Linked DNA regions of Homo sapiens: region 2 is linked to region 1. The links come from fine-mapping of genetic effects on gene expression. A gene starts in region 1. The other region holds a variant in brackets. All regions are shown on one strand. Distances are from middle to middle. Region 1 holds the start of GRK4 (G protein-coupled receptor kinase 4). Region 2 overlaps LOC124900839.

Region 1 (15,690 bases):
CCAGGCGCGGTGGCTCACACCTGTAATCCCAGCACTTTGGGAGGCCGAGGCGGGCAGATCACAAGGTCAGGAGATCGAGACCATCCTGGCTAACACAGTGAAACTCCATCTCTACTAAAAATGCAAAAAAATTAGCCAGGCATGGCGGCGTGTGCCTGTAGTCCCAGCTGCTGGGGAGGCTGAGACAGGAGAATGGCGTGAACCTGGGAGGCAGAGCTTGCAGTGAGCTGAGATCACGCCACTGCACTCCAGCCTGGGCGACAGAGCGAGACTGACCCCCCCAAAAAAAAAGAACATTTTTTTTTTTTTTTGAGATGGAGTCTCACCGTGTCGCCAGGTTGGAGTGCAGTGGCACGATCTCGGCTCACTGCAACCTCCACCTCCCGGGTTCAAGTGATTCTCCCGCCTCAGCCTCCCGAGTAGCTCGGACTACAGGTGCATGCCACCATGCCTGGCTAATTTTTGTATTTTTAGTAGAGACGGGGTTTCACCATGTTGGCCAGGATTGTCTCGATACCTGGACCTCGTGATCCGCCCGCCTTGGCCTCCCAAAGTGCTGGGATTACAGGCATGAGCCACCGTGCCTGGCCAAGAATATTATTTTATAGTATCAGTGGTATAGATATTTTTGGTCCTAAAGTAGCATAAAGCCAATAACCCAATATTTGATTCACTGACCAAGAAATAAAAATCCTGATTTAAAGCCATTATAATCTAGATAGACAAAGTAGAAAATATAAGAAAACCAAACTGACCTGGTTGCTAATAACCTGGCTGATTGATAGCATCCCAAATTAGCTGTACCATAATGATAGTAACAGACGGTAGACATTATTGCTTAGGGAAAATGGGGTAACCTTTTGTTGGCAGAGAAATAATTTGGCTGACTACTACATAGATTACTTCAAATATCTGACAGATAAGAAATACTAAGTTTATAACTCTTTCTAGAAAACTTGATCTTACATGCTGTTGAAAATTCTAATAGGCCGGGTGTAGTGGTTCACCCTGTAATCCCAGCACTTTGGGAGGCTGAAGTGGGAGGGTAGGATCACTTGAGTCCAGGGGTTCCAGACTAGCCTGGGCAACATAGTGAGACCCCATCTCCACAAAAACCACAAAATTATCTGTGCATGGCAGCGCATGCCTGTGGTCCCAGCCACTTGGGAGTCTGAGACAGGAGGACTGCTTGGCCCCAGAGTTCAAGGCTTTGAGGCTTCAGTAGCTATGATTTCCCCACCTGCACTCCAGCGGGGTAACAGAGTGAGACCCTGTCTTTAAAAAAAAAAAAGGCTGGGCACCATGGCTCACGCCTGTAAATCCTAGCACTTTGGGAGGCCGAGGTGGGCGGATCACCTGAGGTTGGGAGTTCGAGACCAGCCTGACCAACATGGAGAAACCCCATCTTTACTAAAAATACAAAATTAGCCGGGCGTGGTAGTGCATGCCTGTAATCCCAGCTACTTGGGAGGCTGAGGCAGGAGAATCGCTTGAACCCAGGAGGCGGAGGTTGCGGTGAGCCGAGATTGTGCCATTGCACTCCAGCCTGGGCAACAAGAGCGAAACTCTCTTTAAAAAAAAAAAAAAAGAAAAGAAAGAAAGAAAGAAAAGAAAAGAAAAGAAAATTTGGCCAGGCACAGTGGCTCACACCTGGAATCCCAACAATTTGGAAGGGCAAGGCGGGTGGATCATTTGAGGTCAGGAGTTCAAGACTAGAAAGAGCAGTCTTTTAATTTCCTCAGCTAGGGAATTTCAAAGGCAACTTTGAGGATTCTCTGCAATCGCTCCTCTATCCAGTGTCTTCTACCTTCAGCATCTCTCTGATCTCCTCTTTCCTCTCCGTTCTCCTAGCTACCCCTCTGGCCCTAGCGCATATGGCCTATGCCTGCTTACTATGTCATGTAAACAGGCCCTTGCAATGGCCCTTTGTTGGTTTCTTCTGCAGCCCTTCCCTTACTTCTCCCCCACGGTGTATGTCTTGGTGGGACTGTCATTCCAGCTGCCTGGTTCCCCCTTAGCCACGGATGCAGGAAGGGGGCCAGAGCCAAGCCAGCCAATTGGTGCTCTCTCCCAGGATAAGAATCATGAAATTCATGAGGCAAAATCAGATAAATAAAATAAAAAGATACCTGCTCTGTCACAGGAGTGACCGTGGAGACCTGATTATCAATCAGCAGCCCCCTGTCTAAAACTATCCAAAACTGCAACTACCAATGCCACCTGGGCGCTTCCTACCCCCATCCCTGCTGTAGTCTCCCGTGGCACTCACTGCTTGCTAATATGCCACACGTCTTATTTATGTGCCTCAAGACTGCCTCCCCTATAAGAATGTGGTCTCCAGAATGGCAGGAATTTCTGAACATGTTGTTTATTGCTATAGGAACAGTACCTGGAACATTCTGAGCACACATCTGCCAAATGAATGCATGAATGAATGAGTCCCACATCCTGTTCTTTCCAGACTGATTGTTAGGTTCTTACTTTGATTCTTTGAGCTACCCAATATCTTCTCCATAAATTTCCTATTTGCTTAAGTTAGCAAAAGTTCTAGGGAGGAAGCCTCAGCAAGAGACAGCATTAATAATAACAGGTATATTAACCATGCTGCAGGTGTTAAAGAAACTGCTCAATAACACCGCAGCCTGAAATCAGAACAGAATTGCAATATATAAGACCAAAACCCACATTAAATGCACGTATTACGTATTCCTCTCTGCATTTGTTTTCAATTTCTCCAAGAGATAAGACGGTGTTAAAGTCTCCTCAGAAGTATGATGTGAAATAATTTAAGCTTATTTAAAGCATAAAAGTTATAAGTTGCTTAACAAATAATATTATACAGGGAAAAAATCCTAAATTAAAAAAAAAAACAAAACAGGCCGGGCACAGTGGCTCACGCCTGTAATCCCAGTACTTTGGGAGGCTGAGGCGGGTGGATCACCTGTGATCAGGAGTTCGAGACCAGCCTGACCAACATGGAGAAACCCCCGTCTCTACTAAAAATACAAAATTAGCCAGGCATAATGGTGCATGCCTGTAATCCCAGCTACTCGGGAGACTGAGGCAGGAGAATTTCTTGAACCCGGGAGGCAGAGGTTGCAGTGAGCCGAGATCACGATTGCGCCATTGCACTCCAGCCTGGGCAACAAGAGCAAAACGACGCCTCAAAAAAAAATTGTTTTTATATTTATTAACAATATGATCTATGAACCTATGAATTATATCAAGGAAAAAAAAATAAAACAAAACACCAACAAAAACCCAATACGGGCCGGGTGCAGTGGCTCACGCCTGTAATCCCAGCACTTTGGGAGGCTGAGGTGGGCGAATCACTTGAGGTCAGGAGTTCAAGACTAGCCTGGCCAACATGGCAAAACCTTGTCTCTACTAAAAATACAAAAAATTAGCCGGGAATGGTGGGTGCCTGTAGTCCCAGCTACTTGGGAGGCTGAGGCAGGAGAATCACTTGAACCCAGGCGGCAGAGGTTGCAGTGTGCTGAGATCATACCACTGCACTCCAGCCTGGGTGACAGAGTGAGACTCTGTCTCAAAACAAAACGAAACAAAATAAGACCAAACCAATATGATCATTTCACGCTTCCTTCATGTCCCTGGCAGAGTGACACACAAACACTTTCAGTGCAGCATCATCTGCCAACATTCCTGAAAGGAAAAGGCTCTAACAATCTTCTGTTTAGACCATCTTAGTCTGTTCAAGCTGCTCTAACAAAATACTATAAACTGAGTAGCTTATAAATTGCAGAAATGTATTTCTCACAGTTCTGGAAGCTAAAAAGTCCAAGATCAAGACAGATTTGGTGTCTGGTGAGGGCCCACTTTCTGATTCATAGCTGGCATCTTCTTTCTGTGTCCATGGTAGAAGGAGTGAGGGGTGTCTCTCTAGTTTCTTTTATAAAGGCACTAATACCATTCACGAGGGTTCCACTCTCATGACCCAATCACCTCCCAAATGCCCCACCTCCTAATTCCATCCCCTTCGTAGTGAAGATTTCAACATAAGAATTTTGGGGGAACACAAATATTCAGACCATAGCAGGGACCAGAGAGGGAGGGGGGATTGAGACTGACTGATTCTATTTGAAATAAATCCAGGAAATGACCGGACTCACTAATAATATTAAATCAACATTGCGCTTCTCAGGACCAGAATATAACTCTTGTGCTACGTTCATTCATTTCAAAGGTTAATTTTCTAGTATATGAGCCAGTGAAGCTAAACAAGGAGCTGTCCATGAAGTTATGTGTCCAAGAAGACACCTCCTGGTACTTCCTGGGAGATACTTTAAAGTAACAAACACAGTCATCAACTTGGGAAAAAGCCCTAAATTATAACCAATACTCAGCATGTATCCATGTATATCTAATATTATATATTCAACTTCTCTAACCATTAATCAAGCTATACATAATGATGCTTTCTGACCACAGGAGCAAATACTCTCACTCAATGGGGACAGGCCTCATAATCACACTACTGTGGAGTTAATATGAGATATTTCAGGGAAAAAATTAAAACTTTCTTTTTTTTTTTTTTCGAGACGGAGTCTCGCTCTGTCACCCAGGCTGGAGTGCCGTGGCGCGATCTCGGCTCACTGCAAGCTCTGCCTCCAGGGTTCACGCCATTCTCCTGCCTCAGCCTCCCATGTAGCTGGGACTACAGGCGCCCGCCACCACGCCCGGCTAATTTTTGTATTTTTAGTAGAGACGGGGTTTCACCATGTTAGCCAGGATGGTCTCAATCTCCTGACCTTGTGATCCGCCCGCCTCGGCCTCCAAAAGTGCTGGGATTACAGCTGTGAGCCACCGTGCCCGGCCAAAACTTTCATTTTTCAAACTATCACTGTGGTCTTAGGTTTTGTGACAGAATCTGGTTTTATGTTATTTAGCATTTATAGAGCACTTGTATTTATCTCATTATCTAATCTCTGCAGCATTATAAGGAAGGCGGCTTGGTATAGTTCCTTTTTGTAAATTACATGCAGATAGGAAGGTAGTGTAAAAAGAAAACTGGCTTAGCTTCAATCTGACTTCCACTAAGGATGATTATTTTCCATGACCTATTTGGAGTTCACAGTCAGGGATAAGAGGCACAGTCAAATGCTCCACTGAAAATGGCTGCTGAGAACGCATACTGCTCTGGGACTCCCTGATTATCTTAAGGGAAAAAGATCCCATTCTCTTCCCACCCATTCTCAGTTCTTCTATTCAAAATAGTGTGAGTTGGTGCACAAAAATACTGAGAAGATGAAGTCTTTGTTTTAGACTTTTTTAAAGAGATGGTCTTGCTGTGTTTTGCCCAGGCTGGACTCTCCTGGGCCCAAGTGAGCCTTCCACCTCAGCTTCCAGAGTAGCTGGGACTACAAGCGTGGCCGCCACCTTCGGCTCCAGACTGTCCTTTAAATATGCATCGCCGGCTGCTGTGGCATCTTCAGTCGGCATTTACACTGTCCTGGAGCACAGTCCGAGCAGAGCTGCTCCATCACGCAAGGAAATAGAGGAAATCAGCAATTCCGTAAGAGTGACGGGGTGTGAAGAACTACCGTGGCTAGCACAGGGACTTGAGGTCCGAGGCTCTGTCGCCAGCTCTCTTGAGACGCAGGCAAGGGAGACATGAGGTCCGAGACAGAGGATTGCACAGAGGATTGTGGGGGTCTCCCGCTGAAGGGCTGGACCAACTGATGCTTTTGTGGCGGGATGCAGAGGACTAGAGAGACCAGCATGGGTGAAAACAGGAGGATATTTATGTTAAGGTACGCACCAGCTCAGTGGATTCACATCCAAAAAGCTGAGCCTTGAACAAAGACTAAGCAGGATTTTTATAAGCAAACTTACAGAAGCAAAACAAAGGCAGTTAATCATATAATGACAGGTCACATAATCTATAGCATAACTGATGACTTGGCATAACTTGTGGCCTTGCATAGCTGGTGGCCTTGTAGCTGCGTTGAAAGAAAAAACCAAGAACTGGCTAAACACAGATATTTGTCCTCTTTTTTTTTTTTCTTCACCCCTGCTCTGGAAGGGGGGTGTCTGGAGCCTATTCCTTTGGATTCGACTTCTCAAACAGAACAGCGTTATCTTATAACTGTCCTTAAAGTGAGCTTGCTAAGCAAAAGAAAACTTGTTCTTCTTTTCTTTTTAACCCTTGCCTTGCCACATTCTGGGCCTTGGCTTTTTCTTTTCTTGGAGTGAATGAATGCAGTACTTATTACTATTTTTAAATTTCTGCCTCACTTTAATAATGATAAAAGGCTGAATTTTTGCCAACTTGTCCATCTGTGACCACGTCGTGCTAAAGCACACTTGACACACCATAGAGCCTCAGATCAAACCTCAAAACCAAGCAGCTATGTTAAAAATAACATTGCCCTACAATCATTATCGGAAGGTTCTCGCCCAGAGTAGTTCCCAGGCTGCTATTCTTTGTCCCCCTTAAGACCATAAAGACGCCGTTCTTTTTTGGTGGGACAGGTTGTCCAACACAAGCAGGACACTGCCTGCCGCATCCTGAAGCAACACTGTCACCGAGGTCACACCGAGAGGACAGGACAAGGACACAGGGCAAGACTAAGAAGAGCAAAGCGCAGACTTCTCTCATCTGGGCCAGGAGATGGGGACTGGGACCTGGCCCGGGCAGCCTGACCACACTGCACAGACCCCGGCTCCGGCTCCGTGCAGATCTGGGTTCCCCCAGTGGGAGGTGTCGGGGCTCTCCAGGGAAATCGGGGTTCTCCGGGGATGTCGGGTTCCTTCAGGGGGGCCAGGGTTCCCCGGGATTCGGGGTTCTCTGGGGGGGGGGTCGGGGGCGCCTGCCGCGCACCCACCTTGACGCGCTTTCAGCAGCAGCGAGTTGGCCACGATGTTCTCGAGCTCCATGTCCTGGCGCCGCCGCCGCCGGCGGATTCTGCGAGACCGAGGAGACTGAGGAGGCGGAACAGGAGGAGACGCCGCCGCCCCCGTGCATAGCTCGCCGGGCACCACCCTCTCCTCGAGCTCCGGACACGATCCCGGGAGGCTGCTCCGCCGCCACCACTGCCACCAAGGGCGCCGCCGCCGCCGCCTCCGCAGGCCCTCACCAGCAGGGGAGCGGTCGGGGCGAGGGGAGGGGGCAGCCCGACCGCGGCGGGTCCCAGCTGTCACCGCTGCCGCGCTATCGCCCCGGTTCTTCTTGGCCCCATCGCCCTCGCCTCGCGCGCGCAACTCCCTCCTCAGTGCCCTGCCCCCGGGCAGCCCCGAGTCAATGCCGTGGCTCACTTCGGACAGGGGCTCACTGGCAGGGGCGCCCGCCGCGGCCGGCGACCCGCTCCCGGGCGGGCTCGGCGCTAACGGCTTAGCTGAAGAGGGAGCGCCCCTCGCCGCCGCGGCCGGGGCACTACAGCTCCCAGAAGGCCCTGCGCCAAGAGTACACGGCGGGCCGCGGCGCGTGGCCTGCTGGGAGTTGTAGTCGCTGAGCCTATCGGCGAGTAAGCCGAGCCTGCGGGCGCGGTGTTTACTTCTCGCGAGTCGGAGGTGCTGCGCTGTTCTCGCGAGACGAGGAAGCGGTTCCGCGGCCCGGCACGTGTCTTAGGGTAGCGCGCGCCTGTCTCTCTTCGGGTCTCGGGCCCTTGGGCGCAGCGGGGCGCGCGCCATGGCGAAGGCGAAGAAGGTCGGGGCGCGAAGGAAGGCCTCCGGGGCGCCGGCGGGAGCGCGAGGGGGCCCGGCGAAGGCCAACTCCAATCCGTTCGAGGTGAAAGTTAACAGGCAGAAGTTCCAGATCCTGGGCCGGAAGACGCGCCACGACGTGGGACTGCCCGGGGTGTCTCGCGCACGGGCCCTCAGGAAGGTAAGCGGGGGGCGCACGGGGAGCCGGAAGGCAGGATCTGGACCCCACGCTGCTCTCGGCCGGCTGCGTCCTTCTCGGTGCGTCGGTTTCCTCGTTGAGCGGCACAGGCCGTGACAGGCACACGGCACTGACTTGATAGTCCGAAAGCCTCTGCTGTTCTCTGAGCTGGAGTGACCTGGAAACTCTCGCCGTCTTGGAGACCCTGCACTCGTGTTATTTCGGCGACTCCTCCAACCGGGTCAGGCCGAGTCAGTCACTTCGGGCGGCGCCCTGGACCAAGCTGCTTGTTAACCCTTCCGCGTTTACTTTGAGCTCTGCAGGTTTGGGGACGGTGGATAGGGGCTGTGTAGGATGCTGCGTTTGATGTTTCATCGGCTCTCTCCCGAAGCGCGTAACCTTGTTCCTTGGGAAGTAACTCTATGGAAACTCATTGCTTCCTAGTTTTTTTAACTTTTTTTTTTTTAAATTTTCACTGAGGAACATACATTAGCAGGTTGGTGAAAAAATTAAGGCACAGAAAGGACAAGTGCATTTCCTAAGGTCACGCACCTGGTAAGGGCTGGGCATGCATTCACATTTCAATATCTACAAAGCCTTCTTGCTACCCCGAGCGCTTCTGTTTGACCTCGCTTCTAGGTTCGGGGAGATAAAGGTAAATAAGACTTGCCCTTGCCTTCATGAGCTCCTGATCTCTGTTCATCACAGTGTGCAAGCTGGATGGTCTTTGAATCAAAACACATATTATCCTTACTGCGCGAAGACGACAGCCTGTATAATGAATAGGCAAGATAGACTTACAGCTGACTTCGATAGGAGTCCCTCATTACACACCCCCGGGCCGGGGTGGGAGAATAAGGTAGTGTGGTTCCCTAGAAGAGACACATTTGTCTTCACCACTGAAGCCTCAGTTTTCTCATTTCAAAAGTAGAGATGATAGTATACATCCTACCCCTCGTGGTGGTTTGTGAGAATTAAGTAAGATAGCACATAGAGCACACAGCAAGTGTTCTCTAAATACTGTTATTCTTAACCTTCTTGGCTTGTCGTTCGAGTCCCGCACAGTCTGGCTGTTGTCCTTGCTTCGCCTCTTGCAACTCAGTTTGTCCAAAAGGTCTGCCTTACCTCCGAAAGTCTCTAAAGGGCCAGCTCAGGTTCACCACCCAAGCTATGTAACCCAAATAGGACAGGTTGCTCAAACTTCTGGTATTGAGCAGATCCACCTCCCTGCCCTGTGCTGAAGGCCTGGGACGGGGACGGGAATTGCTGCTCCTTTTTGGATCTCCAATGCTTGGCCCTTGGAAGAAACACAAATATTTGAAGAAATCAAAGATGGAACCTGAGTGCCTTAGGAGATCCCGGTCAGGAAAAAGTGTAATAGTTAGGAAAGTCCAAAAATTCTTCTAGAGGGAGTTACAGTCAAGTTTTGCAAGGGGAGTGAGCTGTTCATGGGCCCAGGGTGGGCAGAGGACACACATGCAAAGGCACATTGTCCCGGTATGGTGAAGTGTGGCACTCACAGCTGTCTGAGGGACAGCAGGTCGTCCAGTTGACTCCAAGCTTGATAACGCGTGTAGGGGCCGTGAGGCCGGCGCAGGAGGCCTGGGTCTTTTCATGTGGGTTAGTCCCTTAGAAGTAAACAGGCTGCCTCAGTTGGCTTCTCCCCTCTGGTCAGTTGTAGCACTCTGAGGCACTCAGTCTGGCAGGAAGAGGGCAGCCCCCAGGTGCCAGTCTCAGGACATTGCTTTATAGCTGTGCCTCAGTTTCCTTATTTCTGAAATAATTTATAAAATAAGTTATATTAATGTAGTTCTTAAATCAGTAACTATATTAATATAGTTACTATATATTAATATACTAACTATATTATTAATATAGTTACTATATATTAATATACTAACAATATTAATATATTAATATATTATTATAATATTAGCATATTAATATATTATTGTAATAGCATATTAATATATTATTATATTAGTATATTAATATATTATTATAATATTAATATATTATTAAAATATTAATATATTATTATAATATTAATATAGTATTAATATAATATTGATGTAGTATTAATATAATATTGATATAATATTAATATAATAATATTGATATAATATTAAAATAATATCGATATAATATTAATATAATATTGATATAATATTAATATAATAATATTGATATAATATTAAAATAATATCGATATAATATTAATATAATATTGATATAATAATATAATAATAATGTAATTATAATATTAATATATTGATAATGTGATTATAATATTAATATATTGATAATGTGATTATAATATTAATATATTAATATTAATGTGATTATAATATTAATATATTAATATTAATGTGATTATAATATTAATATATTAATATTAATGTGATTATAATATTAATATATTAATATTAATGTGATTATAATATTAATATAATATTAATATAATAATATATAGTAACTATATTAATAATATAGTTACTGGTCCCTTACAGTTGGTCAGGCCTTGTGCCACACGGTTTACATTTAATCCTCACCGTTATGAGGGGGAAGTACTGTTATCCCCATTTTATGCCGTAAATTCCATATGATGTCACAACATCTATATAGTTTAAGAAAGAAAGAGAATCACAATAATGTAGAATAACTCATATTACGTATTTATAGCCTAAGGGCTGTTCTTCACTAAGATTTACCCATAGAATCATATTCCAGATAATGAGAACTAATATTTTTAGAGGCAGAGATGGCTGATGCCTGCCCCATCTACCCCCTTCCTGCTAGAAGCCAGTGACACTCCCTCCCTCTGCAGGGACAGACCTCAGAAGTCTTCTCGGTGTATGCTGGGTTTGGTGGCTCACACCTGTGATCCTAGCACTTTGGGAGGCCGAGGCAGGCAGATTGCCTGAGCTCAGGAGTTCGAAACCAGCCTGGGCAACACGGTGAAACCCCATCTCTACTAAAAATACAAAAAAATTAGCTGGGCGTGGCAGCGTGCGCCTGTAATCCCAGCTACTGGGGAGGCTGAGGCAGGAGAATTGCTTGAACCCGGCAGGTGGAGGTTGTAGTGAGCTGAGATTGTGCCACTGCACTCCAGCCTGGGCGACAGAGCGAGATTCCATCTTTAAAAAAAAAAAAAAAGGTCTCAGTGTAGCATGCAAGCAGCCTCTGTCCGTACAGAGTTCATCGAGCAGTACAGGCTAGCACATGTAATGTGCTCCCATCTGATTGCCAGCTAGACCTTGTGATTTAAATAGTGAGATGTTGTTTTAAAATTTTGCTCTGCGGATAAAGAATGGTGAAGGTTCAGAGAGCTTAACCTGATTCAGTACTGTGTGTGGTTCACTATCAGCATCCAGCAGGATCTCGCTCTGGAATGGCTCGTAACAGAAGCGGAGAGAACAGAGCAATGGCGATGGAGCCCTCTGGTCTATCTGGGGACACTCGCTGTCTTTAGACTCTGGTTCAGGAAATTGTACCCAAGGTGGTTTGTTTGTGTTTTTTGTTTTTTTTTGTTTTTGAGACAGAGTCTTTGTCTGTCGCCCAGGCTGGAGTGCAGTGGCACAATCTCAGCTCACTGCAAGCTCCACTTCCCGGGTTCACGCCATTCTCCTGCCTCAGCCTCCTGAGTAGCTGGGACTACAGGCGCCCGCCACCACACCCGGCTAATTTTTTTGTATTTTTAGTAGAGACGGGGTTTCACCATGTTACCCAGGATGGTCTTGATCTTCTAACCTCGTGATCCGCCCGCCTTGGCCTCCCAGAGTGCTGGAATTACAGGCGTGAGCCACCGCGCCCGGCCCCAAAGGTGTTTTTAACAAACATTGTTTAGCACTGCCACGGTAGGAAGTTACTAGAAGTTACTAGGGATTAATAACTCAGCGTGTGTCAGTTGAAACAAATTGGTTCTTGAAATATTCTTGAAGAAAATGACGAAAATTGCCTTGGCAGTATTTATTGAACTAATGGATGGTTTCCTACTCTTCAGGTAGCAGAGGGGTTTTTCATGCATTTTAAGTGTAATAATAGCACTTTCACATTTCAAAGTGAGATAAGAGAAATGGTTTTTTCACATCCTTTTCTCCTGTCCACATGATTAATATTTCGGTTGACCTCTCCAGATGGAATGTGCTCTAAATGGAAAGGAGGGCCAGGTCGTGCTTCTGTCCCTGCTGGAGCATCTTCTGCTCTTGCCCAGCTGCTTCTTAACCCCTTCCACTCTCTTTTCCTCCTCTTCCAGCTCCTGGTTTTGACCTTAAATCTGGGTTTCTTAGCCTTTAAGTTCATCTCCGACCCTGGGGAAGTGACCTATGTCTGGAGCAAAATCTGACCTGTCCCCTCCTGAAACAGAACTTGGAACCAGAGTGGCAGTGACCAAGTCACCACACGCTCCCTCCTGCCACACGCACGCATTCTTTCAAAGTGACTTCACAAATTAGAGGAATCCCTGAGGAAGGCAAGGAACACTTAAGTCGGGTTAGATGAGAGGTTTCAAATGTCTGCCGAGGCACCGATTTGTGGTGGGTTTGTAAAACCACTGAATTGGATCATTCCAAGGGCCTTCCATGGCATCAAGATTTTGCCTTGATGCCATTTCCTTTCGGAATTGCTGTGTAAACACCAGTGTAATGGCAGTTCCTTAGCAAATAGAAGAAGTTCCGCAGCAAGAAAGAGTTTGCAATGTGGCCATCTCAGGTTGCAGAGGCCACTCGTTCCTCACCCATCTCTGTCCTCTCACAGCTTTCTTTAGGGAATTCAACCTCCAGGACAGCCAACTTTGAATACTGTTAAACTTGGTCTTTTTTTGTTGCTGCTGGGAAAATAACCAAATTATTTGATACTTGCTAACCGTATTTAAAATATTGCTCCTCTTGGTGTTATAAAGGTGAAGCCCCTAAACTGTGACCTCGCTAACTTGTTTATTGCCTTGTGTCTAGTATGAACTCACAACTACACATTTCTTAGGAGTACCTTTGATGGGAAATAGTACCCTCCTCCATGACGGAAGGAGTCTAAACCCATTTCCACTTTTCCAAATGTGCACGTTTTAAACCTTAAGGCAGCTGTTACAGCCGAGGGAGCCATTCATGCCTTGAGCTTGACTAGTGTGTTCTTTTTTACCCTTCCTTTTGGCACCGGTAGACTCTAAAGAAGAAAAGAAAGTGATTGCCCCATTATCCTTGAAAGTTGTTTTGCTCTTCTCAAAATTCTGTGATTAGTAGAGAAAGCCTATCGTGCATGAAAGCAGATTGGGTGTGAACTTTGACATCACTGTGCATAGCCCTGAACTTTAAAGTATGCACTGTTCTGATGTCCCCTGTAGTGGAAATCACAAGAATTTTTTGTGAGATTGTTTCTGACCTGTTTTCCAGCGTACACAGACTTTACTAAAAGAGTACAAAGAAAGGGATAAATCCAATGTATTCAGAGATAAACGCTTCGGAGAATACAACAGCAACATGAGCCCCGAGGAGAAGATGATGAAGAGGTTTGCTCTGGAACAGCAGGTATGGAAAGAAACTGGAGGAGGGTTTTTGCTGTACATTTCACAGGGAAGTCAAGGCCAAGGAGAAGGCTGACTCTGCATGTTTTGCATGTTCCTGGGCACTCGGAAGGTCCAGGGGATAGCCCTCGAATCCTGTGCCTTATCTGGCTAGGCCAAAGGAGAAGCAACCTCTTCTGCAAATGTTAGCTGAATGGATAAATGCCTTAACTCTACTACACGGCAGCAGTGTGCACAGGAGTTCTCAGCTGAGCAGCATTGCTGGAGTGGAAACTGGCCCCTGGGCTTATTTAAGAATTCCCCTCCATGAGGCCGGGCGCGGTGGCTCATGCCTGTAATCCCAGCACTTTGGGAGGCTGAGGTGGGTGGATCATGAGGTCAGGAGATCGAGACCATCCTGGCCAACGTGATGAAACCCCGTCTCTACTAAAAATACAAAAATTAGCCAGGCGTGGTGGCGCATGCCTATAATCCCAGCTACTCAGGAGGCTGAGGCAGGAGAATCACTTGAACCAGGGAGTCAGAGGTTGCAGTGAGCCCAGATCACTCTACCGCACTCCAGCCTGGGCAACAGAGCGAGACTCTGTCTGAAGGAAAAAAAAGAATTACCCTCCATGAGTTTCATTTCTGTCTGAATCATGAATCATTGCTTAGTTGACCCAAAATACTCTTTAAGGCTGCTTAGGATTCGTTGTCATATTTCAAATATAATGGAAATATATATATCTACCTTATCTTTTTTTTTTTGCTGTGAAATGGAAGTGGTAATTTTAGGAAACTTTTTTTCTCTTCTGTCAGCGACATCATGAGAAAAAAAGCATCTACAATCTAAATGAAGATGAAGAATTGACTCATTATGGCCAGTCTTTGGCAGACATCGAGAAGCATAATGACATTGTGGACAGTGACAGCGATGCTGAGGATCGAGGAACGTTGTCTGGTGAGGCTGGGGTGCTGTGCACGGGCCTGTGGGCGTGGAGTCAGGGAGAGTCTGTTCATTGTTAGACCTTCTGCTCTTCTTAGAGACTAGAGAAAGTTATTGCATGAAAGTTTTACTGATCATTAACCTCTCTACAAATTTCACAAGTGACAGTTTTTATGTATTTTTGTTTTTTTTTTAAGTTTTCAGAACTTTAAGATGGTGTGTAGATAGATGCTTTTATGGGCCAAGAAAGCATGTTGATATCCATTATTTTATTTGAACCTCAAAATAGCTCGTTCTACCCATGAGCTCAGAGAAATAAGGTGTTTTGCCCGATGCCAGAGTCAGAGCTGTGGGGAGAACCCACCTCACTGACTCCAGGTGCCTCACTGAATGCACTACTTTGCTCCCCCTACTTTATCAATTCCAGCCTAATATTTGTACCAGTGGCATTGATGTAGTTCCTTTAGCTTTTACCTACTGTGGAATTATAGCAGTTTGAGGAAAATCATATTGAGCCTCATATCTGTAGATAACAACATGAAACAGATAAATTTTGGCCTTAAATAATGTTAACAGAGTTTAAGATTCAGTTCGGGTCTGACTGTCTTGAACCCTATTTATAAGGTTGCAGTCATGACATCAATTACTTGACATTTCTTGTAAGTTAAAGTAGGTCCCATTTCCAGCATCTTCAGAACAAAGGTGTACAAATCTAAAACTGACTCTCAAAGCTTTGTCTTGTCAGTGTGTGAAAGTTAAGGCGTTAAAGCCTGGGGCTGCCTTCTGATATTTGGCTAATCCAGGGGGTAAAAGGCTTAGGAATTAGGGCAGCAAGCATGTGGTGCAGAACCCGCCATCTGCGGCACACCAGGAGGCCCCGCCACTGCTCGGCTTCACGGGCGTGAAGAGAATGGCCAGTTATTTTAACCCCTCTGTGCCTTTGTCTTTGCTCTTTTCATTGTTCAAGACTTCTCGTGGACCCTTAGCTATAAAACGCATTCCCTGGGGAGATCCTAATTCCCCGAGACTGGAGGTAACTGCCTTGGTGTGAGTTGGGCGAGTGGCCTTCCCCTCATTGCCAGGAGGCGCTGTGGCGCAGGTGACTAGAGGGGGCGCCGTGGCGTGCAGGTGACTAGAGGGGGCGCCGTGGCGTGCAGGTGACTAGAGGGGGCGCTGTGGTGCAGGTGACTAGAGGGGGCGCCGTGGCGTGCAGGTGACTAGAGGGGGCGCTGTGGTGCAGGTGACTAGAGGGCGCCGTGGTGCAGGTGACTAGAGGGGGCGCCGTGGCGTGCAGGTGACTAGAGGGGGCGCCGTGGTCCAGGTGACTAGAGGGGGCGCCGTGGCGTGCAGGTGACTAGAGGGGGCGCCGTGGCGTGCAGGTGACTAGAGGGGGCGCTGTGGTGCAGG
Region 2 (15,690 bases), 940 kb after region 1:
AGGCTGAGGCAGGAGAATTGCTTGAACCTGGGAGGCAGAGGTTGCAGTGAGCCGAGATCGAGCCATTGCACTCCAGCCTGGGCGACAAGGGTGAAACTCCATCTCAAATAAATACATAAATAGTCTACCAACCAAAAAAGCCCAGGACCAGGTGGATTCACAGCTGAATTCTACCAGAGGTACAAAGAGGAGCTGGTACCATTTTTTCTGAAACTATTCCAAACAATGGAAAGGAGGGACTCCTCCCTAACTAATTTTATGGGGCCAGCATCATACTGAAACCAAAACCTGGCAAAGATACAACAAAAAAAGAAAACTTCAGGACAACATCCTTGATGAACATCAATGCAAATACCCTCAATAAAATACTGGCAAACCGAATCTAGGAACACATCAAAAAGCTTATCCACCACGATCAAGTCAGCTTCATCTCCGGGGTGCAAAGCTGGTTCAACGTACACAAGTCAATAAATGTAATTCATCACATAAACAGAACTAAAGACAAAAATCACATTATTATCTCAATAGATACAGAAAAGGCCTTCAATAAAATTCAACATCCCTTCATGTAAAAAATGTAATAAACTTGGTATTGAAGGAACATACCTCAAAATAATAAGAGCTGTTTATGACAAACCCACAGCCAATATCATACTGAATGGGCAAAAGCTGGAAGCATTCCCCTTGAAAACTGGCACAAGAAAAGGATGCCCTCTCTCATCACTCTTATTCAACATAGTATTGGAAGTTCTGGCCAGGGCAATCAGGCAAGAGAAGAAATAAAGCATATTCACATAGAAAGAGAGGAAGTCAAATTGTCTTTCTTTGCAGATGACATGATCCTATATCTAGAAAACCCCACTGATTCAGCTCAAAAGCTTCTTAAGCTGATGAACAACTTCAGCAAAGTCTCAAGATACAAAATCAATGTGCATAAATCACAAGCATTCTTATACACCAACAACAGACAAGCAGAGAGCCAAATCATGAATGAGTTTCCATTTACAATTGCCTCAAAGATAATAAAATATGTAGGAATACAGCTAACAAGGGATGTGAAGGACCTCTTCAAGGAGAACTACAAACCACTGCCCAAGGAAATCAGAGAGGACACAAACAGATGTAAAAACATTTTATGTTCATGGATAGGAAGAATCAATATCATGAAAATGGCCATACTGCCCAAAGCAATTTATATATTTAATGCTATTCCCATTAAACTACCAATGACATTGCTCACAGAATTAGAAATAACTATTTTTAAAAATTCATGTGGAACCGTAAAAGAGCTTGTATAGCCAGGACAATTCTAAGCAAAGAGAACAAAGCTGGAGGCATCACACTACCCGACTTCAAACTATTCTACAAGGCTACAGTAACCAAAACAGCACGGTACTGGTACAAAAACAGGCACACAGACCAATGGAACAGAATAGAAAACTCAGAAATAAAACTGCACATCTACAACCATCTGATCTTTGACAAACCTGACAGAAATAAGCAATGGGGAAAGGATTCCCTATTTAATAAATGGTGCTGGGAGAACTGGGTAGACATATGCAGAAATTGAAACTGGACCCTTCCTTACACCTTATATAAAAATTAACTCAAGATGGATTTAAGACTCAAATGTAAGACCCAAACTATAAAAACCCTAGAAGGAAATCTAGGCAATACCATTCAGGACATAGGCATGGGCAAAGATTTTATGATGAAATCGCCAAAAGCAATTGCAGCAAAAGGAAAAATTGACAAATGGGATCTAATCAAACTAAAGCACTTCTGCACAGCAAAAGAAACTATCATCAGAGCAAACAGACAATCTACAGAATGGGAGAAAAATTTTGCAATCTATCAGTCTGACGAAAGTCTAATATCCAGAATCTACAAGGAACTTAAGCAAATTTACAAGAAAAAAAAAACCCATTAAAAAGTGGGCAAAGGACATGAACAGACAATTCTCAAAAGAAGACATACACGCAGCCAACAAACATGAAAAAAACTCAACATCACTGATCATCAGAGAAATGCAAATCAAAACCACAATGAGATACCATTTCATGCTAGTCAGAATGGCGATTATTAAAAAGTCAACAAACAACAGACGCTGGCAAGGTTGCAGAGAAATGGGAACACTTTTTACACTGTTGGTTGGAATGTAAATTAGTTCAACCATTGTGGAAGACAGTATGGCGATTCCTCAAAGATTTAGAATGGGAAATACCATTTGACCCAGCAATCCCATTACTGGGTATATACCCAAAGGAATATAAATCATTCTATTATAAAGATACATGCATGTGTATGTTCATTGCAGCACTATTCACAATAGCAAAGACATGGAATCAACCCAAATGCCCATCAATGATAGACTTGATAAAGAAAATGTGGTATATGTACACCGTGAAATACTATGCAGTCATAAAAAGGAATGAGATCATGTCATATGCAGGGATGTGGATGAAGCTGGAAGCCATTATCCTCAGCAAACTAACGCAGGAACAAAAACCAAACACCACATGTTCTCACTTATAAGTGGGAGCCAAACAATGAGAACACAGGGACATGGAAAGGGGAAAAACACACACTGGGGCCTGCTGGGGGAGGAGAGGGGGGAGAGCATCAGGAAAAATAGCTAATGCATGCTGGGCTTAATACCTAGATGATGGATTGATAGGTGCAGCAAACCATCACGGCACACATTTACTTATGTAACAAACATGCACATCCTGCACATGTACCCCAGAACCTAAAATAAAAGAAAAAGAAAAAAAGGGAAGCAGAGCATAAAAGTTTGGAAAATTTGCAGCCTGACCATGTGAAAGAAAAGAAAAACCCATTTTCTGGGGGAGGAATTAAAGCAAGCCTGCTGCAAAAATTTGCATAAGAGGAGCCGAATGTTAATAGTCAAGAAAATAGAGAATATGTCTCCAAAGCATTTAGAGATACTTATGACAGCCCCTCCCATCACAGGTCTGGAGGCCTAGAAGGGAAAAATGGTTTTGTCGGCCATGCCCGGGGCCCCACTGCTCTGTGCAACCTCAGGACACAGCACCCTGCGTCCCAGCCACTCCAGCCCCAGCTGTGGCTAAAATGGGCCAAGATACATCTCAGGCTGCTGCTCCAGAGAGTGCAAGCCAGAAGCCACCAATGTTTCCATGTGGTGTTAAACCTGCAGGTGTATAGAGGGCAAGAGTTGAGGCCTGGGAGCCTCCACCTAGATATCAGGGGATGTACAGAAACACCTGGATGTCCAGGCAGAAGTCTGCTGCAGGGGCAGAGCCCTCATGCAGAACCTCTACTAGAGCAGTGTGGAGGTGAAATGTGGGGTTGGAGTCCCCACACAGAGTTCCCACTGTGGCACTGCCTAGTGGAGCTGTGAGAAGAAGGTCACCAACCTCCAGACCCCAGAATGGTAGATCCACTGACAGCTTCCACTGTGCACCTGAAAATACTGCAGGCACTCAACACCAGCCTGTGAAAGCAGCTGTGGGGGCTGTACCCTGCAGAGTCACAGAGGCAGAACTGCCCAAGGCCTTGGGAGTCCACCCCTTGCATCAGCATGCCCTGGGTGTGGGACATGGAGTCAAAAGAGATTATTTTGGAGCTTTAAGATGTAATGACTGCCCTGCTAGATTTCAGACTTGCATGGGGCCTTAGCCCCTTTGTTTGGCCAATTTCTCCCTTTTGGAACAGGAGTATTTACCCAATGCCTGTACCCCCATTGTATCTTGTAAGTAATTAGTTGCTTTTTATTTTACAGGCTCATAGGTGGAAGGAACTTGCCTTGTCTCAGATGAGACTTTGGACTTGGACTTTTGTGTTAAGACTTTGGGGGACTGTTGGGAAGGCATGATTGTGTTTTGAAGTGTGAGGAGGATGTGGGATTTGGGGGGGCCCGGGGCAGAATGATATGGGTTTGTCACAGGATCCTTGAGGTGTCACTTCACCAGCTGGAAACCTCTGTGGCCAGTGGTGCCTTTTCTTGAGTTTTGCTCAGGCCCACTGGGCTCATTCTGCCCACTTGGCCTGGCAGACTGTGCTTGGCTCATCCTACCAGCTTGGATCCCAGGCCTGCCAAGGGTGAGCCAGGCAAAGAGCGGTGAGGGGTGCATGAGTGAGCAAGCACAGGGTCTGGCCACTACGCAAGCCAGGCACACCAGCTGTGGGTGGGAATAGGAGTTTTAATTTTTCTCTTTTTCCTGTAATACTTCTTTTCTATCACTCTGGCCAACTGCCTCCCACTGGGAAATACCTCTTTTGTCCTTGTTGGGTGTAGAGGCCACTCTAAGGCCTAACTGGACACCATGCTGCCACTGTTTATCCTGCTTGCCCTCCCAATCACCCTGATCCAGGGTGGGTGGTAACAGAATGCTATAGTAAATATTTCAAAAATTACAGCATCAGGGAACCATCTTCATGGTTGCTGGGTTTGTCATCAACATCCCCAGGACAGAGAGTTCCATCTTCTGGCCTATCTGGAAAATCTCACAGCCATCTCCCCAGACTTCCTAACCAACCACAGTGATCCCAAAGTACCCAGACCCCTACTTGTTAGGTGGAACTCTCCTCCACTTAATGGATTTCACCTGAACCTCCATCTCCCTACCCCTGTACCGCACTCCCCACCACTGTCACTTGGACCCAGAAAGCTGGCTATCTATGTCTCCGGTGTGCTAACGATTCTCTTTTGCATTCACTGTTGTGTTGTTAACGACACAAAAGCAGAAGCTTCCCTGCAATGTTCTCACACAACTTGTTGCCAAATTCTCAAGGCTGCAGTGAAGTAAATCGGATCCCACTTGTGAGTGAGGAAATTATAGATGGTGCCTTCTCCAAGATCAGAGCATATAGGGGAAAAAACAACTGTCTAATCTGGGAAGGTGGGAGTACCACCCTGTCCTGGAAAACAAAGGTTGTTCAACCACCCCCATTGGAGCAGGGAAGGAATATCTCTATAGACCCAACTTGGCAGGAAAGGATACACATCACGCCCCACAGGGCCTCTATTTGTGTCCCAACTGGGTTCGTTTTTGTTTGTGGCCACAAGTGGGAAGAATCCCACCCCGTAACCACTCCCAGCACCCAGCTCTCAGCTCCCCAGGGAGCCCACCTGTTCTTTTAGAAGTAGCTTTCCCTTACATATCAAAATCTTGGAACAGGAGTGAATGTATGTTGACCACCCTTGCCCCTCCAGGGGCCGCGTCTATAACCCCATAAGACCTAAGAACATCAGAAGATAATGAGCAATAGGATTAATTCTGGGAGGAATCAGGGTAGTAATAGGACAATCTTAGCCCCCTGATGTGACTTTGCCTACCACGAGTCAACCCTGAAGAATTCGACTCAAACCCTAGAATCATTAGCCACCAGCACAGGTCAGGCATTAAAAGGGAATACAAGAATCCCTAGACTGTATGGCAAATATAATCCTTGATAACAGACTAGTGTTGGATTATTTAACGAGCTGAACAAGGTGGAGTCTGTACGGTTATTAACAAAACCTGCTGCACCTATATTAACAACTCTGGACATAATAATGTTAACATTCAAAAGATTTATGAGCAAGCTCCCTGGTTACATAGACATAACCAGAGCACAGACCCAGCTAATCTGGTCAACTGTCAGAAATGCCCTCCCAAGTCTCACCTGGTTTTTACCCCACCTGGGACCTTTGGTAGGTATATCATTACTACTAATTTGTGGCCCTTGCTTGTCTAACCACTTAGTAAAGTTTGTGTCTTCCAGATTGCAACACTTCTACATCAAGAAAATGTGGCAATAAGGCTGCCAAACCCTCCTGTCTTCTGAACCGAATCCTTGTAGATTCTGGATATCGCACCTTCATAGGAATATTCTGAGAATATTTTCTCCTATTCGGTAAGCTGTCTGTTTACTCTGTGATAGTTTCTTTTGCTGTGCGTACACTCTTCAGTGTCACTAGGTCCCACTTGTCAATTTGTTGTTGTTGTTGTTGCAATTGCTTTTGAGGACTTAAGTAATAAATTCTTTCCCAAGGCTGATGTCCAGAATGGTGTTTCCTAGGTTTTCTTCTAGGATTCTTATAGTTTGTGGTCTTCCATTTAAATCTTTAATCCATCTTTAGTTTTTGTATAAGGTGAAAGGTAGGGGTTCAGTTTTATTCTTCTGCATATAGTTAGCCAGTTATCCCAGCACCATTTATTGAATAGGGAGTCCTTACCCCATTGCTTATTTTTGTTACCTTTGTCAAAGATCAGGCCTTCCTTGGCCTCCCAAAGCACTGGGACTACGCGTGTGAGCCACTGTGCCCAGCCCAGTATGGCCATTGTAACAATATTGATTATTCCAATCCATGAACATAGGATATTTTTTCCATTTGTTTGTGTCATCTGTGACTTCTTTCAGCAGTGTTTTGTAACTTTCCTTATCAATATCTTTCACCTCCCTGGTTAGACGTATTCCTAGGTATTTTATTTTTGTGTGTGGCTATTGTAAACGGGATAGCATTCTTGATTTGGCTCTCCGTTTGGATGCTATTGGTTTACACAAATGCCGCTGACTGGCCGGGCGTGGTGGCTCACACCTGTAATCCCAGCACTTTGGGAGGCTGAGGCAGGCAGATCACGAGGTCAAGAGATTGAGACCATCCTGGCCAACATGGTGAAACCATGTCTCTACTAAAAAACGAAAATTAGCTGGGCGTGGTGGCATGCACCTCTAGTCCCAGCTACTTGGGAGGCTGGGGCAGGAGAATCATTTGAGCCCAGATTGTGCCACTGCACTCCAGCCTGGTGACAGAGCAAGACTCTGTCTCAAAAAAGAAAAGAAAAGAAATACTGCTGACTTTTGAATGTTGATTTTGTATCTTGAAACTTTACTGCAGTCATTACAGTTCAGGAGACTTTTGGTGGAGTTTTAGGGTTTTCTAGGTATAGAATGATAGCATCAGCGAAGAGAGATTGAAGGGGGCCAGCCCCTTCACACCTGTGGGTATTTCTCGTCAGGTGGGACGAGGGACTGAGAAAAGAAATAAGACACAGAGACAAACTACAGAGAAAGAACAGTGGGCTAAGGGGACCGGCGCTCAGCATACGGAGGACCCACAGCGGCACCAGCCTCTGAGTTCCCTCAGTATTTATTGATCATTATTTTTACTATTTTAGCGAGGGGAGTGTAGCAGGGCAACAGGTGGGGAGATGGTCAGCAGGGAAACGTAAGCAAAGGAATCTGTATCACGAATAAGTTCAAGGAAAGGTACTGTGCCTGGATGTGCACGTAGGCTGGATTTATGTTTCTCTTTACCCAAACATCTCAGTGTAGCAAAGAGTAACACAGCAGTGTTGCTGCCAGCATATCTCGCCTCCAGCCACAGGGCGGTTTTCTCCTATCTCAGAACAGAACGAATGGGAATCGTCAGCTTTCCACCGAGACATTCCATTCCCAGGGACGAGCAGGAGGCAGAAGCCTTCCTCTTATCTCAACTGCAAAGAGGCCTCCCTCTTTCACTCCTCCTCCTCAGCACAGACCCTTTACTGGTGTCGGGCTGGGGGATGGTAAGGTCTTTCCTTTCCCACGAGGCCATATCTCAGGCTGTCTCAGTTGGGGGAAACCTTGGACAATTCCCAGGCTTTCTTGGGCAGAGGTTCCTGCGGCTTTCCGCAGTGCATTGTGTCCCTGGTTAATCGAGAATGGAGGATGGCGATGACTTTTACTAAGCATATGCCGTGCAAACATATTGTTAACAAGGCACAGCCCGCACAGCCCTAAATCCATTGAACTTTGATTCAATACAGCACATGTTTCTGTGAGCACAGGGTTGGGACTAAAGTTACAGGTTAACAGCATCTCAAAGCAGAAACAATTTTTCTTAGTACAGATCAAAATGGAGTTCCTTATATCTTCCTTTTCTACAAAGACACAGTAACAATCCGATCTCTCTTTCTTTACCCCACAGAGATAGTTTGACTTTTTTTCCTATATGCATGCTTTTTATTTCTTTCTCTTGCCTGATTGCTATGGCTTGGACTTCCAAAAGGGTAAATTTTTAATATATAAATTATTCTTCAATAAAGCTGTTATTTAAAAAATAAGCCAGGACAGTCATGGTGGCTCAAGCCTGTAAACCCAGAACTTTGGGAGACCGAGGCAGGTGGATTACTCGAGCCCAGGAGTTCGAGACCAGCTTGTCCAACATGGTGAAACCCCATCTCTACTAAAAATACAAAAATTAGCCAGGCATGGTCACACTCGCCTGTAATCCCAGCTACTAGGGAGGCTGAGACAGAGAATCGCTTGAACCTGGGAGGCGGAGGATGTAATGAGCTGAGATCATGCCACTGCACTCCAGCCTGGGTGACAGAGTGAGACTCCATCTCAAGAAAAATAAATAAAGGAAGGAAGGAAGGAAGGAGAAAGAGAAATTATGGAAAGAAAAAGAAAAAAGAAAGAAGAAAGAAAGAAAGAAAGAAAGAAAGAAAGAAAGAAAGAAAGAAAGAAAGAAAGAAAGAAAGAAAGAAAGGAAAGAAAGAAAGAAAAGAAAAGAAAAGAAAGAGGGAAAGAAAGAAAGAAAGAGACCGGGTGCGGTGGCTCACGCCAGTAATCCCAATACTTTAGGAGGCCAAGGCGGGCGGATCATGAGGTCAGGAGATC[A/G]AGACCATCCTGGCTAACACGCTGAAACCCCGTCTCTACTAAAAATACAAAAAATTAGCCGGGCATGGTGGCGGGCGCCTGTAGTCCCAGCTACTCAGGAGGCTGAGGCAGGAGAATGCCGTGAATCCGGGAGGCGGAGTAGGCAGTGAGCCGAGATGGCACCACTGCACTCCATCCTGGGCAACAGAACAAGACTCTAAAAACAAAACAAAAGAAAGAAAGAGAGAGAGAGAGAGAGAGAAAGGAAGGAAGGAGAAAGAAAGATATAAAGAGAAAGAGGGAAGAAAGGAAGAAAGGGAGAGGGAGGGAGGAAGGAAGGAAAGAAGAAAGAAAAGAAAGAAAGAAAAAGAAAGAAGAAAGGAAGGAGAAAGAAAAAGAAAAAGAAGAGGGTAGGAAGGAAGGAAGGGAGGGAGGTAGGGAGGGAGGGAGAGAGGGAAGGAGGAAGGAAGGAAGGAAGGAAAGAAGGAAGGAGAGAGAGAAGGGGCTTGCCTGTTTCTGAGATGATTTACCTTTAAGAGGCAGTCGAGCCTTAGGGGTTTCTGGCCAAACAGAAGAGAAAGGACATGAATTCAAACAATGGGCATCCCAGCCTGAGCAACACAAAAAGACCCCATCTGTACAAAAATTAAAATGAAAATTAATTTTTGAAAGATAGCCAGGAATGCTGGTGTGGGCCTGGGCTCCAGCTACTGGAAAGGCTGAGCGGGGAAGACCACCTGAGCTCAGGAGTTCAAGAACAGCCTGGGCAACATAAGAAGACCCTGCCTCTAAAAAAATAAATAAAAGAGGGATGGGGCAGTGGAGGAGCTTGCAGCAAGAGTGCAATAAAGGTCATAAAGTTCACATTGCAATTGGAGGGATCTGAAAGAGTTTTACGTTTTCCCATTTTTATTTGATAAAGGAATCCTTTAGGAATTAATTTTTCTTTTCTTTTCTTTTTTTTTTTTTTTTGAGATGGAGTCTCCCTCTGTCACCCAGGCTGGAGTGCGGTGGCGCCATCTCGGCTCACTGCAAGCTCTGCCTCCCAGGTTCACGCCATTCTCCTGCCTCAGCCTCCGGAGTAGCTGGGACTACAGGCGCCCGCCACCACGCCCAGCTAATTTTTTGTATTTTTAGTAGAGACGGGGTTTCACCGTGTTAGCCAGGATGGTCTCAATCTCCTGGCCTCATGACCCGCCCCACCTCGGCCTCCCAAAGTGCTGGGATTACAGGCGTGAGCCACCGCGCCCGGCCCCGAAGTGGTCTTTGAGGGAAGGGCACCATTCGGGAAGGGGAGCACTGAGGTCACAGCGGGAGCACGCCCACCCGGGAGCAGAAACCCCTCCTGAGGGCAGGACCCCAGCCACCACACACCCTGGCAAGAGCTCGCAACCTGGGGTTGCAAACCCTCCACTGAAGGCAGTGCTGACCTGAGGGTCTCCCTAGGAGGACAGGCGTGAGCAGAGAATCTGTCTGAAGACAAGGCAAAACTGAAGGTGCAGATGAGGACTTAGTTTGTTAGATAAGAACAGTGGATTCACGAGATCTGAACTCACTGGCCCTTGGTGCCCTTGAGACAGGGACATTCAGACCTGTGTTAGTTCATCCTCTTCCCAAGGAGCTCTTCACAACAGAAGGTGACAAGGACAGACGGACACACAGAATTGTTGTTAGGAGCAAAGTAGTTTCCACAAGGATCAAAATCTTCATCTCATCAGATAATCAAAGCACACGTAAGAAGGCTTTCTCAATCCTGGAACACAAGGAGCTTTCACAAAAGAAAACCAGAGGGTCACGGGGAGAGTGCTGGTTCCAGTCGCAGGTCTCAGGCCATCCTGGGGAGGCCGTCTCAGCCGAATCCCATGGGAACATTTAGGACCATTCACTGCCAACAACTCAACAGTGACTCCCAGAAAACTTGTTTATTTTTAGAGACAGGGTCTTGCTCTGTTGCCCGGGCTAGATTGCAGTGGTGCAACCACAGCTCACTGCAGCCTCAACCTCCTGGGCTCAAGCAATCCTCCCCCATCAACCTCCCAAGTAGCTGGGACTACAGGTGTGCTCCACCACACCCGGCTAATTTTTTAGTGTTTTGTAGAGACAGAGTCTTGCTGTGTTGCCAAGGCTGGTCTCTAACTCCTGGGCTCACGCAATCCTCCCACCTCAGCCTCCCAAAGTGCGCCTGGCCTCATAGGATTTTAGAATCTGGGCTCAGATGGTTGATGGTCTGTCTTTCAGTGCAAGGACTCATTGGGATAGGACAGAGCTTATGGCCCAACAGTGCAGGACAGAGAAACACAGCCAGATGAAGGTTCTGATGAGTGAGCTGGTTCCCAGATTGGTAAACTATGTGCCAGGATACATTGTTCTGCAAGATTTTCCTGAAGCAAACAGTGATTGACTGATTTAGTTTTATCTTCCTGGAAAGAATTTTCTGGAAATAATCATTAAATCAGGTTGACACAGGTGATCTCAGCTCTTGATCCCAAGAGTTAAGTGGACACAGGTGGTCTCAATTCTCATCCCGTCCTCAATATTCTGCCAAGGCCCCTCTGTCTTTTCCATCTCTTTTTTTTTTTCATTTTCTTTCTTTCTTTTTTTTTTTTTTTTTTTGAGACGGAGTCTCACGCTTGGTGCCCAGGCTGGAGTGCAATGGCACGATCTCAGCTCACGGCAACCTCCACCTCCCAGGTTCAAGCGATTCTCCTGCCTCAGCCTCCTGTGTAGCTGGGATTACAGGCATGAGCCACCACGCCCAGTTAATTTTTGTATTTTTAGTAGAGACAGGGTTTCACCATGTTGGCCAGGATGGTCTTGATCTCTTGACCTCATGATCCACCTGCCTCGGCCTCCCAAAGTGCTGGGATTACAGGCATGAGCCACTGTGCCCAGCCTTCCACCTCATTTTCTCTGTCATCATTTTTTTCTCCAGCTTCCAGGAGCCGTCGTAGCAGCCGATTAGGACTGGCTGCTGGTGTGGTGATGACCTAGAGGGCTTCTCCCAGGTAAGGTGAGAAGAGGGATCCACTCACTGCAAGAGGCTGCATAAACTTAACCCAACACTGTAAAGGCTCTCCTCATGAACAAAGCATTAGTAGTCTAGATAAAATACTAACAAGCGAAATCTAGCAACGTGTAAAAAAGAATAACATAGTCCAAGTTGGGCTTATTCTAGGAAAGTAAGGTTTATGTAATTTGAAAGGCAATCAATGTAATTCATCACATTTACAAAATAAAGGTGAAAAAATCATACAATCATCTCAGTATGCACAACAAAACATTTTATAAGAACATTTGATAAAATTAAATGTTGGTCATGATTTTTAAAAACCTGTAGCAAATTAGGAATAGAAGGGAACTTCTTTAATTTGATCTAGGGCACCTTAAAAAATAAGCAAACATGGCCGGGCATGGTGGCTCACACCTGTAATCCCAGCACTTTGGGAGGCTGAGGCGGGCGGATCACGAGGTGAGGAGATCGAGACCATGCTGGCTAACACGGTGAAACCCCATCTCTAATAAAAATACAAAAAATTAGCCGGGCGTGGTGGCGGGCGACTTGTAGTCCCAGATACTCAGGAGGCTGAGGCAGGAGAACGGCCAGAACCCGGGAGGCGGAGCTTGCAGTGAGCCAAGATCACACTACTGCACTCCAGCCTGGGCGACAGAGTGAGAATCCGTCTCAAAAAAATAAGAATAAAAATAAGCAAACATATCACTTAATGGACTCATGTAACAGTGAAAAGTATGGCGGGATAGCTAACAGGCCAACCCTCCCACTGATTAAAGGCTTTGGAGCATAAACCAAAGCAAGCGGATTTTGGAGGGAAGTAAAAACTTGGAGGAAAGGACCAGCCTGGTGAATTTGTTTGTTTGTTTGAGACAAAGTCTTGCTCTGTTGCCCAGGCTGGAGTGCAATGGTGTGATCTCAGCTCACTGCGACCTCTGCCTCCCGGATTCAAGCAATGCTCCTGCCTCAGCCTCCTGAGTAGCTGGGATTACAGGTGCCCACCACTGTGCCCGGCTAATTTTTGTATTTTTAGTAGAGATGGGGTTTTGCCATGTTGGCCAGGCTGGTTTTGAACTCCTGACCTCAGGTGATCCACCTGCCTCGGCCTTCCAAAGTGTTGGGATCACAGGCATGAGCCACCACAGCTGACTGATCCTGGTGAGTTTTAAGGCCATTTTCAAAGCTTAAGCCTGAGGACAGCTAGGGAGCCCCGGCATGGTGCAAGCAGATAACCCTAACAGAAAACTGACTGTCTTTCTGGATTTACAAACCAGAAAACAGAGCCTGGACCCACACAATTTCCAGGAAGTCAGGAGGGAGTCCTAAAACGGAAAGAGCCAGAGAAGTCTCTGATAGATCATGCAGGCAAAGGTAGCCTCTAGCAGCTTGCAGGCAGGGCCGCACTGAGATTTGAAAGGCCTCTAAACCTACTCTACAGAAAGCCCAGAGGCAGACACAAAGTCAACAGGGGAGAGGTCACTCCTGCCTTTACACAGCTGCTGAGAATAGATGAAAAGTCTTGCCAACTTATTTAAAAGGCTAGGCTGGGCACGGTGGCTCACACCTGTAATCCCAGCACTTTGGGAGGCTGAGGCAGGCGGATCACAAGGTCAGGAGATCAAGACCATCCTGGCTAACACGGTGAAACCCCGTCTCTACTTAAAAAAAAAAAAAAAAATTAGCCGGGCGTCGTGGCGGGTTCCTGTAGTCCCAGCTACTCAGGACACTGAGGCAGGAGAATGGCGTGAACCCAGGAGGTGGAGCTTGCAGTGAGCGGAGATCGTGCCACTGCACTCCAGCCTGGGCGACAGAGCAAGACTCCGTCTCAAATAAATAAATAAAAGGCTAGAAAGCCATAATTCCCAATCTAGATAAAAATGAATATATACAAATAAAATTATAGGACAATTCACTCATAATCAGAGGTGCAAATTTTAAAGAAATTCACAGCGAATTAAGAGAAACAGGGTTGTGATTAGGGTGACGTATGTGAAGCACTTGCTTTGGGCAAAATATTCAGGAGGTTCCAAAATAGTTATTAAGATAAATATTTTTCAATTAGTAGCTCCTATAAAAGGAAAATAATTTAAAAGAAAAAATATTTTAAAAGGTAAATATTTTAATACACTACCTTAAAGAGTCAAAACTCATGCAAAAAAACTATGGTGAACAAAATATAAAATTTTAAATGAAGACAGCATCAGTATCACTGATTGGTTTTCTTGCCTCAGCTCCAATATGGCTTGACATGGCACTGTTACTATCTGTCTTTGTTTAAAATTTCAGTATGTTGTTTATCATTGATTTTTTCTGGCATTGATTTTGAGTTTTTAAAATATTGCATTCAAATACCATTTGTTGTGATGGCTGAGTGTTCTGACCCCTGTTAAGCCTCCCTCAGCTCTCTCCCCTTGCCCGGGCCCTGGCCCTGAAAGATAATTCATCTTGACAAGTAAGGCTCCTCTGAGGAGCACAGGGACGGTTGAACATCAGAGATCCTATCATGACCTTGGGCACCACATTCATAGCCTAAAGGAAGGGCAGCGTGAGATTTTCTCAACAGATGCGGAAAAGCTCATTTTTCTTAAAGAGAAACACTGTTAGGATGAAAACTCTGGAACATAAAGGAAACAAGAAAACTTCCTTAAGTGGACAAAGGTGATCCACTAATAACTTAGATTATTTCATGGATAAAATTTAGACATGGGCCAGGTGTGGAGGCTCAGCACTTTGGGAGGCAGAGGCGGGAGGCAGAGGCAGGAGGATCCCTTGAGCCCAAGAGTTTGAGACTAGCCTGGGCAATATAGCAAGACCCTGCCTTGTGAAAAAAAAATTGGACATATACCTTTACGACTGAAAGCAAGACAACAGGATTCTTACTGCCCTGCTAATGTTCAACAGGACTGGAATCTTTGGCCAATACCAAAAAAATAATAAAGGAAAAGTATAAATATACATGGAAGACACAGAACTGTCATTGTCTGTAAATGAAATATTCAGAATAACCAACTAAATCAACCCACTATTAGAATAAATATAGGAGTCCATAAAGGTTGTTGGATGTATGTCCAACTTAAAAAATAGTATTTCTCGTATTCATAATAACCAACTGGAAAATAGAATACAGGATATCATTCATAAGAGCATGAAATACACTAAGGCATCTGAGTTAAGCTAATGAAAATGATTAGGAACTGTATGAGGCCTGGCGCGGTGGTGCACACCTGTTATCCCAGCTCTTTGGCAGGCCAAGGTGGGAGGATTGCTTGAGGCCAAGAGTTTGAGACGTCATCTCTACATAGTGAGACTTCATCTCTACAAAAATTTCAAAAGCTAGCTGGGCATGGTGGCACGCGCCTGTAGTCTCAGCTATGAGGCTGCAGTGAGCCAAGATTGTACGGCTGCACTCCAGCCTAGGCAAGAGTGAGACGCTATCTCTAAAAAAAATAAGTAAGAAAGAACTGGCCAGGCGTGGTGGCTCATTCCTATAATCTCAGCACTTTGGGAGGCCAAGGCGGGGAGATCACTCAAGGCCAGGAGTTGGAGACCAGCCTGGCCAACATGGCAAAACCCCATCTCTACTAAACAAACAAACAAACCACAAAAATAGGCTGGGTGTGGTGGCTCACACCTGGATCCCAACAGTTTGGGAGGCCGAGGTGGGCGGATCTGAGATCAGGAGTTCGAGACCAGCCTGGCCAACATGGTGAAATCCCGTCTCTACCGAAAATACAAAAATTAGCCAGGCTTGGTGTTGCATGCCTGTAATCCCAGCTACTCAGGAGGCTGAGCGATGAGAATCACTTGAACCCGGGAGGCGGAGGCTACTAGGGAAGGTGAGAGGCAGGAGAATTGCTTGACCCCGGGAGGCGGAGGTTGCAGCGAGCCGAGATCGCGCCACTGCACCCCAGCCTCACCAACAGAGCGAGACTCTATATCAAAAAAGAGAAAAACACAAAAATTAGCTGGGCATGGTAGCATATGCCTGTAGTCCCAGCTACTTGAAAGGCTGAGGCATGAGAATCGCTTGAGCTTGGGAGGCGGAGGCTGCAGTGAGCTGAGATCGCACC

What was found. PIP is the estimated chance that this variant, and not a neighbour inherited with it, causes the effect.
Region 2: its variant is fine-mapped to the expression of GRK4 in vagina (GTEx, PIP 0.96).

Annotation. Positions count from the first base shown.
Region 1 is chr4:2,955,278-2,970,967 of GRCh38, reverse strand. It overlaps GRK4 (G protein-coupled receptor kinase 4), which reads right to left and starts at 7,397. Exons shown (of 16, transcript NM_182982.3): 1 at 6,846-7,397. The coding sequence starts at 6,897. NOP14 (NOP14 nucleolar protein) reads left to right here and starts at 7,562. Exons shown (of 18, transcript NM_001291978.2): 1 at 7,562-7,843; 2 at 13,228-13,362; 3 at 14,157-14,298. The coding sequence starts at 7,649. RefSeq lists silencers at 6,725-6,774, 6,945-7,374 and enhancers at 6,837-7,370, 7,371-7,904, 8,935-9,004.
Region 2 is chr4:2,013,595-2,029,284 of GRCh38, reverse strand. It overlaps LOC124900839, which reads left to right. Exons shown (of 4, transcript XM_047416543.1): 2 at 5,749-5,880; 3 at 11,543-11,615. Among named protein-coding and RNA genes, the nearest start is that of NELFA, 12 kb to the right of the region's middle. The variant A/G (reference allele first, on the strand shown) is at 8,632.